Linked DNA regions of Homo sapiens. The protein of the gene in region 1 interacts with the protein of each later gene in a pairwise test. Each region holds a gene or a part of one and is shown in the gene's direction. Other genes may lie near its edges.

What was found.
Region 2: the proteins of ABCG4 (region 1) and TMEM50A interact in binary tests that used the Homo sapiens proteins (3 or more experiments, as listed by UniProt).

What each region holds. Positions count from the first base shown.
Region 1 is NC_000011.10:119,159,018-119,163,412, forward strand, and holds the end of ABCG4 (ATP-binding cassette sub-family G member 4), read left to right. Parts: intron 1-1,209; coding exon 1,210-1,368; intron 1,369-1,520; coding exon 1,521-1,639; intron 1,640-1,863; coding exon 1,864-2,089; 3' UTR 2,090-3,636; downstream 3,637-4,395. UniProt on the Homo sapiens protein: ATP-dependent transporter of the ATP-binding cassette (ABC) family that may be involved in the cellular efflux of sterols, in particular cholesterol and desmosterol (a cholesterol precursor), to high-density lipoprotein (HDL).
Region 2 is NC_000001.11:25,341,284-25,348,576, forward strand, and holds part of TMEM50A (transmembrane protein 50A), read left to right. Parts: intron 1-1,677; coding exon 1,678-1,790; intron 1,791-4,990; exon of another isoform or gene 4,991-5,094; intron 5,095-7,293.

The sequences.
Region 1 (4,395 bases):
TTCCTTCCTTTGCTGTCCTTCTACTCACTTAGCAAATAGATGGTGAGTACCTGTCATAGCCCAGGCTCTGTACCAGGCCCTAGGGATATAGCATTGAACTAGACTGATGTAGTCTTGACCATGTGGAACTTATGTTTTAGTGAGGACAACTGACAACAAACAGAAAATGATGAAAATAACCCTATAGGGCCAGGCGCAGTGGCTTGCGCCTGTAATCCCAGCACTTTGGGAAGCCGAGGCTGGAGGATCACTTGAGCTCAGGAGTTTGACACCAGCCTGGGCAACATGGCGAAATCCCATCTCTACTAAAAATACAAAAATTAACCAGGCTTGGTGTTGTGCACCTGTAGTCCCAGCTACTGGGGGCAATAACCCTACAAATGACTCTGTAACTCTTATTAGGGGCAGTAGAAAATGGTGTACTCTCTGGCTCTTACTGCCACTTGCTACCTGCAAGATCTTGGGCAAATCACTCTCTTTGCTAAAGTGTACCCATCTATAAAATGGAATGACAATAGTATCTACCTCAGGATTGTTAGAATTGAATGAGTTAATGTATATAAAGTACTTAGAATAGTGCTTGGCACATACGAAGTGCCCAGCAAATGTTAGCTGGTTGTTGTTACCGCCAATACCACCCTGTTCCAAGCATCAGGGCCACCAGTAATCCATAGGGCACATCTGTGCAAGTTAGAAAAAGGTGCCCCTTCCTCAGGGTGGACACCGTCACAGGATGCTTGGCTTAATAAGAAGAGCACAAGCTGGACCTTTGGCCTGGTTGGCTCTTGGTTGGATGCCCTTGAGCAGTGGATGACTGTACTTAGTAAGCTCAGACCCTGCCCCCTAGGAGTTGGTAGCTCATGGGGGAACAAAATGGCTCTCCTATGGAGAGTTAATTACTTAACAATATAACGAATAAGCTGGTCCAGGTGGGAAGGACTTTAGGCGCTCAGGGAAGGGAAGAGTCACCGTGCCTGAAGCAGTCAGGGTGGACCAAACGGAAGACGTGAGACGAGATAAGTGATGGTCATATGGCCAGGGAGGAAGGGGACGTGTGTCAATCTGGGGGACAGCTTGAACAAGAATGTGGAGGCAGGATGGACACCCTGGGAATAGGTATTCTAGAGGCCCAGCCTTGGGTGGAGTGGAGGTCTTGGCTGCTGTGCCCCTGGCTTGAAGTCCACTGTCCAGCCCGTGCCCACTCCCCAGGTGGTGTGTCCGGTGGTCTACTGCAGCATTGTGTACTGGATGACGGGCCAGCCCGCTGAGACCAGCCGCTTCCTGCTCTTCTCAGCCCTGGCCACCGCCACCGCCTTGGTGGCCCAATCTTTGGGGCTGCTGATCGGAGCTGCTTCCAACTCCCTACAGGTGGGAGGGCTGGCAGTTGGGAATTCCCAAGGCGGGATGAGGTCTTGTGGGAGGAAGCAGGGCCTGGTGCAAGGGTTAGGGTGGAGCTCTAGGAAACCTGGGTTTGTCCTGGTCACCCCTATGATGGCCTGGCCCCCTCCCTTCCCCTCTAGGTGGCCACTTTTGTGGGCCCAGTTACCGCCATCCCTGTCCTCTTGTTCTCCGGCTTCTTTGTCAGCTTCAAGACCATCCCCACTTACCTGCAATGGAGCTCCTATCTCTCCTATGTCAGGTCAGTACCCCTGCCCTCCTCGTTGGCCTCTGCTCCTCCCTGGAGGAGTCCATACCCAGGGCTTCCTGGGTTGTGCCAAGTCTGCTGCCTGCCCCATTATCCTTTGGGCAGGGGCACCCTGGCTGCACCCCAGGGATGACAGCATTGCAGCTGGGCTCTGGCAGTTTTCTCAGAGAGCAGGGACCCTGTGTGCTGTATCCCATCTGATATCCCTGCCTGCCTAGGTATGGCTTTGAGGGTGTGATCCTGACGATCTATGGCATGGAGCGAGGAGACCTGACATGTTTAGAGGAACGCTGCCCGTTCCGGGAGCCACAGAGCATCCTCCGAGCGCTGGATGTGGAGGATGCCAAGCTCTACATGGACTTCCTGGTCTTGGGCATCTTCTTCCTAGCCCTGCGGCTGCTGGCCTACCTTGTGCTGCGTTACCGGGTCAAGTCAGAGAGATAGAGGCTTGCCCCAGCCTGTACCCCAGCCCCTGCAGCAGGAAGCCCCCAGTCCCAGCCCTTTGGGACTGTTTTAACCTTATAGACTTGGGCACTGGTTCCTGGCGGGGCTATCCTCTCCTCCCTTGGCTCCTCCACAGGCTGGCTGTCGGACTGCGCTCCCAGCCTGGGCTCTGGGAGTGGGGGCTCCAGCCCTCCCCACTATGCCCAGGAGTCTTCCCAAGTTGATGCGGTTTGTAGCTTCCTCCCTACTCTCTCCAACACCTGCATGCAAAGACTACTGGGAGGCTGCTGCCTCCTTCCTGCCCATGGCACCCTCCTCTGCTGTCTGCCTGGGAGCCCTAGGCTCTCTAGGGCCCCACTTACAACTGACCAAAGTGGCCCCCTCTGGGGGTCCCCACCACACAAGTGTTTGTAAACTGGGCTGCTATAAGGTTGGAGTTCCAGGGCTGGGCCCTGGTGGAGTCCACTGGAAGTCCCATTATGGATGTTGAAATGGACAGGGAAGGACTCTGGAAGTCTCTTCCTCCTCCTCCTCTTCTCTCCACCCCTAGACCCTGGCTGACTTGGACAATCTGCCAGGACAGAAGCTGGGTTTTCTGTCTAGGTCACCACTCCCAATCCTGGGGATTGGAGAGGCCTGGGGCTGTGGGATGCCCCATCCCCCTCCCCATCACCTTTGGTGGGGGCAGGGCCTGGTGGCACCTGTGCAATAATGTCTGTGTTTCTCTCCCACCTGCCACTGGAACTGGAGAATGCACTTTATTCTGGGCGGGGGGTGAGTGGGGGAAGACCCAACCCTCCTTTCTCGCTGCCCCTAACGCATGCACGGTCTCGTGATGCTCCCTCCCTCTCCGGAGTGACAGGCACATACATGAGAACAGGCCATCTCAGCCCTACACACTTGCCATCCCCTACAGCACAGAGGAAGAGTGATGGTGGCATGCTGGTGGTGGCGGGTGCTGGTGGGAGGACAGTGCCAACCTCCTCCTGGGGATCCCATGTTGGAGACTCTAAGGATAAGGCTGGTGCTGCCCAGGGTGTCTACAGGAACTGCAGGTGTCTACCCCCAAGTCTTCCCTCCTCCCAAGCCAGGGGTGGCACAGGGCACTAGATCCCTGGAGTTCAGGAACCAACACAAGCACAACCACGGGCATAAGTTGGCCTTGGCCACTGCCACCCACGGCCCTCCTTTTGTGCTCCATGCTGGCATCTTCACTCCCCTACCCCTTCCCCAGCCACTGCTGCTCATTCAAACTTCTGTCCATGTCCCTCCACTGTTCCTATCAGCAGGTGGCCCCTGGGCATCAGAACAGCCTGCCCTGGGCACCAGGTGGCAGACACACTCAGAGCATGTCTGGCTTTCCTGGTGGGTCCAGGCTCATTCTGCTTCTGATTTCCCCTCCCCCAGGGCTCATTTTCCCCCTTTTTCCTGTACACATCCCTGTCTACCTCCTCTCACCCTGCCACAGATTCTTCCTATCACACAGGGATGCCAGTTGTATTTGTGGGATTTCACCCATTATTAATAAAACCTATATTTATACAGTATGCAATGTGTAAATGTGTGTGGATCTGCCACCTGGTACTGTGCCCTGCAAGGGGGCCTTCAAAGCATTTGGCATGAGGCCTGTCAGCTGTAGGGAGTCTGTGGCAGGGGATGGTAGGTCCCAGGTACATGTCAAGCTAGTGAACATGTAGCTTAAGAAATATTTGTGTCACCGGGCATGGTGGCTCACGCCTGTAATCCCAGCACTTCGGGAGGCCGAGGCGGGCGAATCACGAGGTCAGGAGATCGAGACAATCTTGGCTAACACGATGAAACCCCATCTCTACTAAAAATACAAAAAATTAGCCGGGCGTGGTGGCGGGTGCCTGTAGTCCCAGCTACTCGGGAGGCTGAGGCAGGAAAATGGCATGAACCCGGGAGGCGGAGGTTGCAGTGAGCCGAGATCGTGCCACTGCACTCCAGCCTGGGCGACAGAGCGAGACTCCGTCTCAAAAAAAAAAAAAAAAAAAAAAGAAATATTTGCATCATGCTGTCCATCTCACAGAGGCTTCACATTCATTATCTCAAGGGAGTCTCATGCTGACCCTGCACCATCCTTCATGACAACCCGTTTTGTAGATGAGAGAACTGAGACTTGGGTTAAGTAACCTACCCAAGGGCCCTCAACGAATGGAGGAGGAGCCAGGCCTGGAGACCAGGTCTTCTGCCTCCAAAGTCCTCTTTCTTGGCATCGGTCAATGGCACTTGTTCATGGTGGACCCACATGCTGTGTGGGGGAGCTGCGTGTCTGTTGTATGAGT
Region 2 (7,293 bases), on another chromosome or scaffold:
GTCTCAGTCTGTCGCCCAGGCTGGCGTGCAGTGGCGCAATCTCAGCTCACTGCAAGCTCCGCTTCCCGGGGTTCACGCCATTCTCCTGCTTCAGCCTCCCGAGTAGCTGGGACTACAGGCGCCCGCCACTGCGCCCGGCTAATTTTTTTGTATTTTAGTAGAGACGGGGTTTCGCCGTGGTCTCGATCTCCTGACCTCGTGATCCGCCTGCCTCGGCCTTGCAAAGTGCTGGAATTACAGGTGTGAGCCACCGCGCCTGGCCTTGCTCTTGTTTTAGTAGAGACGGGGTTTCTCCATGTTGGTCAAGCTGGTCTTGAACTCCCGACCTCAGATGATCTGTCTGCCTCGGCCTCCCAAAGTGTTGGGATTACAGGCATGAGCCACCGCACCAAGCCATTTTTTCTTAAGCTTTAAGATTTATTTATTTTCGAGACAGGGTCTCACTCTGTCTCCCAGGCTGGAGTACAGTGGTGAAATCACTGCTCATTGCAACCTCGACCTCCCGGGCTCAGGTGATCCTCCCACCTCAGCCTCCGGAGTAGCCTGGACCACGGATGAAGGCCACCACACCGGGCTAATTTTTGTTTTTTTTTTTGTTTGTTTTTTTTGTAGAGATGAGGTCTCTCCATGTTGCCCAGGCTGGTCTCCTACTCCTGGGCTCAAGTGATTCACTGGCCTTGGCCTCCCAAGGTCCTGAGATTACAGGCTATTGCACCTGGCCAAAAAGCTTTGAGTTTTTAGTCTATGAAGAAAATATCTTAAATACATTGAGCTGAGGGTAAAAAGAAAGGCATATGTACTCATGCTAGCCATTAAAAATGTTATTAATCGAGTATGGATCTGTCTGTAACCTGATAAAAGTAATTTGACTAGCCTAAAATTGTTACTTTAAAATAATTGCCAGAAGATGTCAGTTGCCAGAGCTAACTGAGTCAGGGTTTGGTGTGGGGATAGGAAAGGAAAGGGGGTTACTTTTAAAATCTTCTAGGCTACTTGTCAGAATTTGGTTAATATAATTTTATTGTAAATATCTGCTCAGATGATAAAAACTGTTTTTGAAGTTTTGGCGTTATTTTGTTATACCTTTGCCCTTGATAATATCTAGAGCCAAATTCAATTAGATAAATTGTAATCTGGTGTTTAAATTAAATTTAAAATCACACCTGAAACCATATTTAGACTGCACTGGAATTCATCAAAAGCAGAACCTCAGAGCTGTTATTTCACACCAAGAAGATAGCTAAAATTCTGTGAACAATAGTTGTTCTCCATATTAATTTGAATGCTTTTTTCTTGATTTTGGGGAATATTTCTCTGGAAGTTTATCATATATCAACAGGACACTTCTGTCAGTTGGAATTGGAGTCACTTTTTTCCTTTCCCCCTCCATGAGATAACTGGTTTCTAGTTCACCAAATTAGATTACAAGGCTTTATTATGATAAAAATTAAATAATGATTGAAGTAGGCTTAGAGAAAAGTTATGTTAATAAATATAAATTGCTCTCAGATTTAAGGGTACCTAATCAGTTATTAGGCCATGTGCAAATTACATGTGGGAAAAAGCTAGAACATTTTTGAAATGTATTAAAAGGGATCTCCTCACTTAAATACCTTGCTTTTAGCCAGTGAGATACAGAATTGCTATGATTTCTCATTGGTATCACCTTTGTTTTAGTTTTTTACAGGCTGGTGGATTATCATAGATGCAGCTGTTATTTATCCCACCATGAAAGATTTCAACCACTCATACCATGCCTGTGGTGTTATAGCAACCATAGCCTTCCTAATGTAAGTGTCATCGTAATTGGCATTACTTACATAGCTTGCCACAAAATAAAAATGTTTCAAATATAGTTGCATAGATTTAAAATTCTAAATATTATCAGATTAACACACTGGACATGATTTAAAAGTCACACAGTAGAGATGGACTTATACAGAAAAGCAGCAGTCCTCTTTATTCTTTTTGTGTACCTCTCCACTCCCTCCCAGCTTCTCTCAGCTATTCTTTTATTTTATACCCCCAGGGTTTATAGCTTTATATTTAAGTCCGAAACTGTGTATTTTGTCTAAGGGATAATTCTTTCAACAATATTTATTAAGCTTTTATATTCCAGACTCTGCTCTAGGTACAGGACATATAGTAGTTAGTAAAACAGGAAAAATCCATGTCTTTTTGTCATTTAAAATAAGTGCAAAGGAGAAAAAATAGAGAAAGGAGATATGTGCAAATAAGTGCAAAGGAGAAAGGGATGTCAATAGGAGGGATAGAAATTAAAAAATTTTTTTTTTTATAGAGAGGGTGTCTCATTATGTTGCTCAGGTTGGTCTCCTGGGCTCAAGTGATCCTCCCACCTCGACCTCCCAAAGTGCCAGGATTACAGGTGTGAGCCACCACACGTGGCCAGAAATTTTCAGCAGAGTCAGAGAAGGTCTCACTAAGAAGGTGACTTTGAGTAAAGACTTGAAGAAAGTGAAGGAGCTGACCAGGGGATGGGGATATATAAGAGAGGTTCATTCCAGGCAGGTGAAACAGCAAGTACAAAGGCTTTACGGCAAGGAGACCAGTATAACTGCAGTAGCAAGATCAAGGGAAAGAGAAATTGATGAGGTCAAAGAAGTGGTGGAGAGGGACAGATGGTATAGGGCCTTGAGAAGCATTATAAGAACTTTACTTTCAGCTGGATGCAGTGACTCATGCCTGTAATTCCAGCACTTTGGGATACCGAGGTGGGTGGATCACTTGAGCTCAGGAATTTGAGACCAGCCTGGGCAACATGGTGAAACCTCATCTCTACCAAAATACAAAAATTGGTAGGGCATGCCTGTGGTCCCAGCTGCTCCGGAGGCTGAGGCGGGAGGATTGCCAGAGCCTGGGAAGTCAAGTCGATGTTACAGTGAGTCATGATTGTGCCACTGCACTTCAGTCTGGGTAACAGAGCAAGACCCCATCACAAAAATAAGAACTTTACTTTCATTGTAAGTGTAATGGAAGCCATTGGAAGGTTTCGAGCAGAGGAATGAAATGACCTTATATTTTAATAGGAGCATTCCTGTTGAAAAATTTTTAAAACCGGTAAACAAAATTTATTGCAGTGCCAAATAGTATAAGCACCATGACTCTGTGCTTCTCAAATTTATCAATGTATTTTGAAAATATTCTTGTATTCTTACCAGTTTCTCAAATTCATAAAATCGTTTAGTTTGCTTCATACTTGGGCTGTGACTTTGTTATTTAGTATTGTTTTTTCCTATAGTTTTTTTTTTCTTCTTTAATTAAGACGAGGTCTCACCTTGTTTGCCAGGCTGGTCTTGAACTCCTGGGCTCAAGCGATCCACCTGCCTTGGCCTCTCAAAGTGCTAGGATTATAGGTGTGAGCCACTGTGCCCGACCTTTCCTAGAGTTTCTGATTGTTTTTTTTTGTTTTTTGTTTTTTGTTTTTTTTTGGTGGTTGTTGGTAGAAAGAATGTATATTTTCTTTAGGATTCATTTTATTCTTCTTGAATGCTGCAGTTCTAATTTGGACAGTTACTATGTGGAATGTAGTAGCCTTGTTCAGTTTTTTGTTTTTCCTAGAGTTTCTAGCTGCCTTTTCTTTGTTTTCTTGCATTTTCTACTATTATCACATCTTTATTTTTTTCCCAAATTCTCAATTATATTCTTTAATGTATTATAACTTCTTTTGTTTTAGAAATCAACATCCCAGAAGCCCGTATCTGTCTGTTTCATTATGAATTAATGACTGTGTAAGCCTGCTGCAGCACTGTCACCATGGGACTTCCCTCCCCTGTTGATCAGGGTTGAATCCACTGTTTTTCCAGTTACCACATCTTCTTTTTTTTTTTTTTTTTTTTGGATACAAGAAGTATTTACTTTGGCCGGGCATGGTGGCTCACGCCTGTAATCCCAACACTTTGGGAGGCCAAGGCGGGCAGACCACCTGAGGTGAGGAATTTGAGACCAGCCTGGCCAACGTGGTGAAACCCCATCTCTACTAAAAATAATTTAAAAAGGCTGGGCGCAATGGCTCACGCCTGTAATCCCAGCACTTTGGGAGGCCGAGGCAGGCAGATCACGAAGTCAGGAGATCGAGACCATCCTGGCTAACACAGTGAAACCCTGTCTCTACTAAAAATACAAAACATTAGCCGGCTATAGTGGCACGTGACTGTGGTCCCAGCTACTCGGGAGGCTGAGGCAGGAGAATCGCTTGAACCCAGGAGGCGGAGGTTGCAGTGAGCAGAGATCATGCCACTACACTCCAGCCTGGGCGACAGAGTGAGACTCTGTCTCAAAAACTAAAAAATAAATTAGCCAGGCACGGTGTTGCGTGCCTGTAGTCCCAGCTACTCGGGAGCCTGAGGCACAAGAATCACTTGAACCTGGGCAGCAGAGGTTGCTGTGAGCCGAGATCACACCACTGCACTCCAGCCTGGGCGACAGAGGGAGACTCCGTCTCAATAAATTTAAAAGAAAAAAGTATTTATTTTAGTTTGTTTATTTATTTATTTTTTTTTTTGAGATGGAGTTTTGCTCTGTCGCCCAGGCTGGAGTGCAATGGCATGATCTCTGCTCACTGCAACCTCCACCTCCCAGGCTCAATTGATTCTCCTGCATCAGCCTCCCCAAGTAGCTGGGATTACAGGCACACACCACCATGCCTGGCTGGTGTTTGTATTTTCTGTAGAGACGGGTTTCACCATGTTGGCCAGGCTGGTCTTGAACTCCTGACCTCAAGTGATCCACCTGTCTCGGCCTCCCAAAGTGCTGGGATTACAGGCGTGAGCCACCACACCCGGCCGATATGTTTTCTTAGAATTCTCATCTCTTTATCTTTTTATTTTATGTTCCAATCTGTTAAACATTTTTGCATTTCAGTTCTCATGTTTTAATTTCTAAGGGCCTTTGTTTCCTTAATTATGAATGCTTCCTTTAGGGATCAACTCTCTCTGTGGGCCTTTCTTTTTTTTCTTTTCTTTTCTTTTCATGTTAGACGTGTAAGGTGCTGATGTAAGAACAAGGTTTGAGGGAGGCACATCTCAAACATGCACATGAACACCCAATCATCGTGCCTAAGAACTACAAAAGAATCAGGTTTTCCTTTTAAATTAAAAAAAAAATGTTTTAGAAGTAGGGCCTCGCTTGTCACCCAGGCTGGAGTGCAAATGGTGTGATCATAACACACTACTGTCTCAAAATCCTGGGCTTAAGCAGTCCTCTGGCCTCAGCCTCCCCAGTAGCTAGGACTACTTGCACATACCACCACACCCAGCTATTTTTTAAACAGTTTTTTTGTAAAGACAGGATCTCACTATGTTGCCCAGGCTGTTCTTGAACTCCTGGTCTCAAGTGATTCTCCTGCCTTGGCCTCCGAGAGTGCTGCATGATAGGTGTGAGTCACTGTGCTCTCTGCCTTTATTATTTTAAAAATGTAATATAAAATGCATTCTGGCCAGGCATGGTGGCTCACACTTGTAATCCCAGCACTTTGGGAGGCCAAAGTGGGCGGATCACTTGAGGTCAGGAGTTCAAGACCAGCCTGGCCAACATGGTGAAACCCTGTCTCTACAAAAAAATACAAAAATCAGCCGGGCATGGTGGTGCATGCCTGTGGTCCCAGCTACTGAGGAGGCTGAGGTGGGGAATCACTTGAATCTGAGAGGCAGAGATTACAGTGAGCCAAGATCACGGCACTGGATTCCAGCCCAGGAGACAGAGTGAGACTCTGTCTCAAAACAAACAAACAAACAAAAAACGCATTTAGTGAGATACATAAAGTGCACAAGTCATATATACATCTCAACAAATTTTTCTTATATATACACCCATGTAAACAGCATCTAGATCAAGATTTAAAACATCACCCCAGAACATTCTCAATCAGCACTTCCATCACACCTGTATAGCCCCCATCCTGACCTCTACCATTGTCCATCAGCTTTCTGTAGACCTTTTTTTTTTTCTTTTGAGATAGGCTCTTGCTCTGTTGCCCAGGCTGGAGTGCAGTGGCATGATCTCGGTTCACTGCAACCTCTGCCTCCTGAATTCAAGCAATTTTCCTGCCTCAGCCTCCTGAGTAACTGGGATTACAGACGCCCACCACTGTGCCCAGCTAATTTTTGTATTTTTAGTAGAGGAAGGGTTTCACCATGTTGGCCAGGCTGGTCTCGAACTCCTGACCTCTCAGGTGATCCACCTGCCTTGGCCTCCCAAAGTGCTGGGATGACAAGCGTGAGCCACCATGCCCGGCCTTCTGTAGACTTTTAATTTAGGTTGTAGAGTCATCTCATACAGGCTTCCAGGTAATCCAAGTTGAAAATTACACACATTTTTAAATTTTGCTACAGTTACTTAAGTGTAAACACAGTAACTTGTATTTTCAGAGTAAAGCAAGTGGCTAAGGGCAGCCAGTTTGACTGTGCCTGGCATGGAGTCAGTGCCAGAGTAGTTATTCATTCGCAGAAGTAAAGGTCTGACTTCAGAAGCCACTGATAGCAAAGGGCTGTGGTCTTTTTCTTTGAAGTTCAGCCAGTATGCAGCTATTTCTAGTTCTTTCCATCTTGTTGCAATTTATTTTACCGTAATAATGATGCTGTTAGAATTCTTTTAGAAAGCTGACACCTAAATTTCAACATTGGTTTAGATTTAAAAGTTTTATTTTTGTGATTGTATTTTTGTCCTGCTTTTGTTCTCAGATCTTTAAAAAATTATTTTGTTCCATTTTGAAGCAGTAGCAAGTCTGACTATGGAGGGGAATTATAGCTGTATATGAGCTTGAATGTACTATTCAAACGTGTTTCCTGCTAAACTTACATTCTGTTGCATTAACATAATTATAGCAGAGCTGACTTCATGTCTTTATAAATGTTTATCATCTATTTGGCTTCAGTTTACATCTTTTTATTATAGTGTCAGATAGTGTCAGGCCATAATTTTAAACAAAAACTGTTAGTTAATTATAATTCAAATGGATAGGAGTCAAAAAGCAGCTATTCTTTCATTAATGACTTTATTATTTTTTCTCTTATTACAAAAGTTCTCTGATTTTGTGGCTTTAAAAATATTAATAAATGTTCTGTGTATTACTCTGTATTTTTTAATTTTAAAAATGTAGGGTAGGCCGGGCACGGTGGCTCACGCCTGTAATCCCAGCACTTTGGGAGGCCGAGGTGGAAGGATCTCGAGGTCAGGAGATCGAGACCATCCTGGCCAACATGATGAAGCCCCGTCTCTACTAAAATACAAAAAATTAGCTGGGTGTGGTGACACGCGCCTGTGGTCCTAGCTACT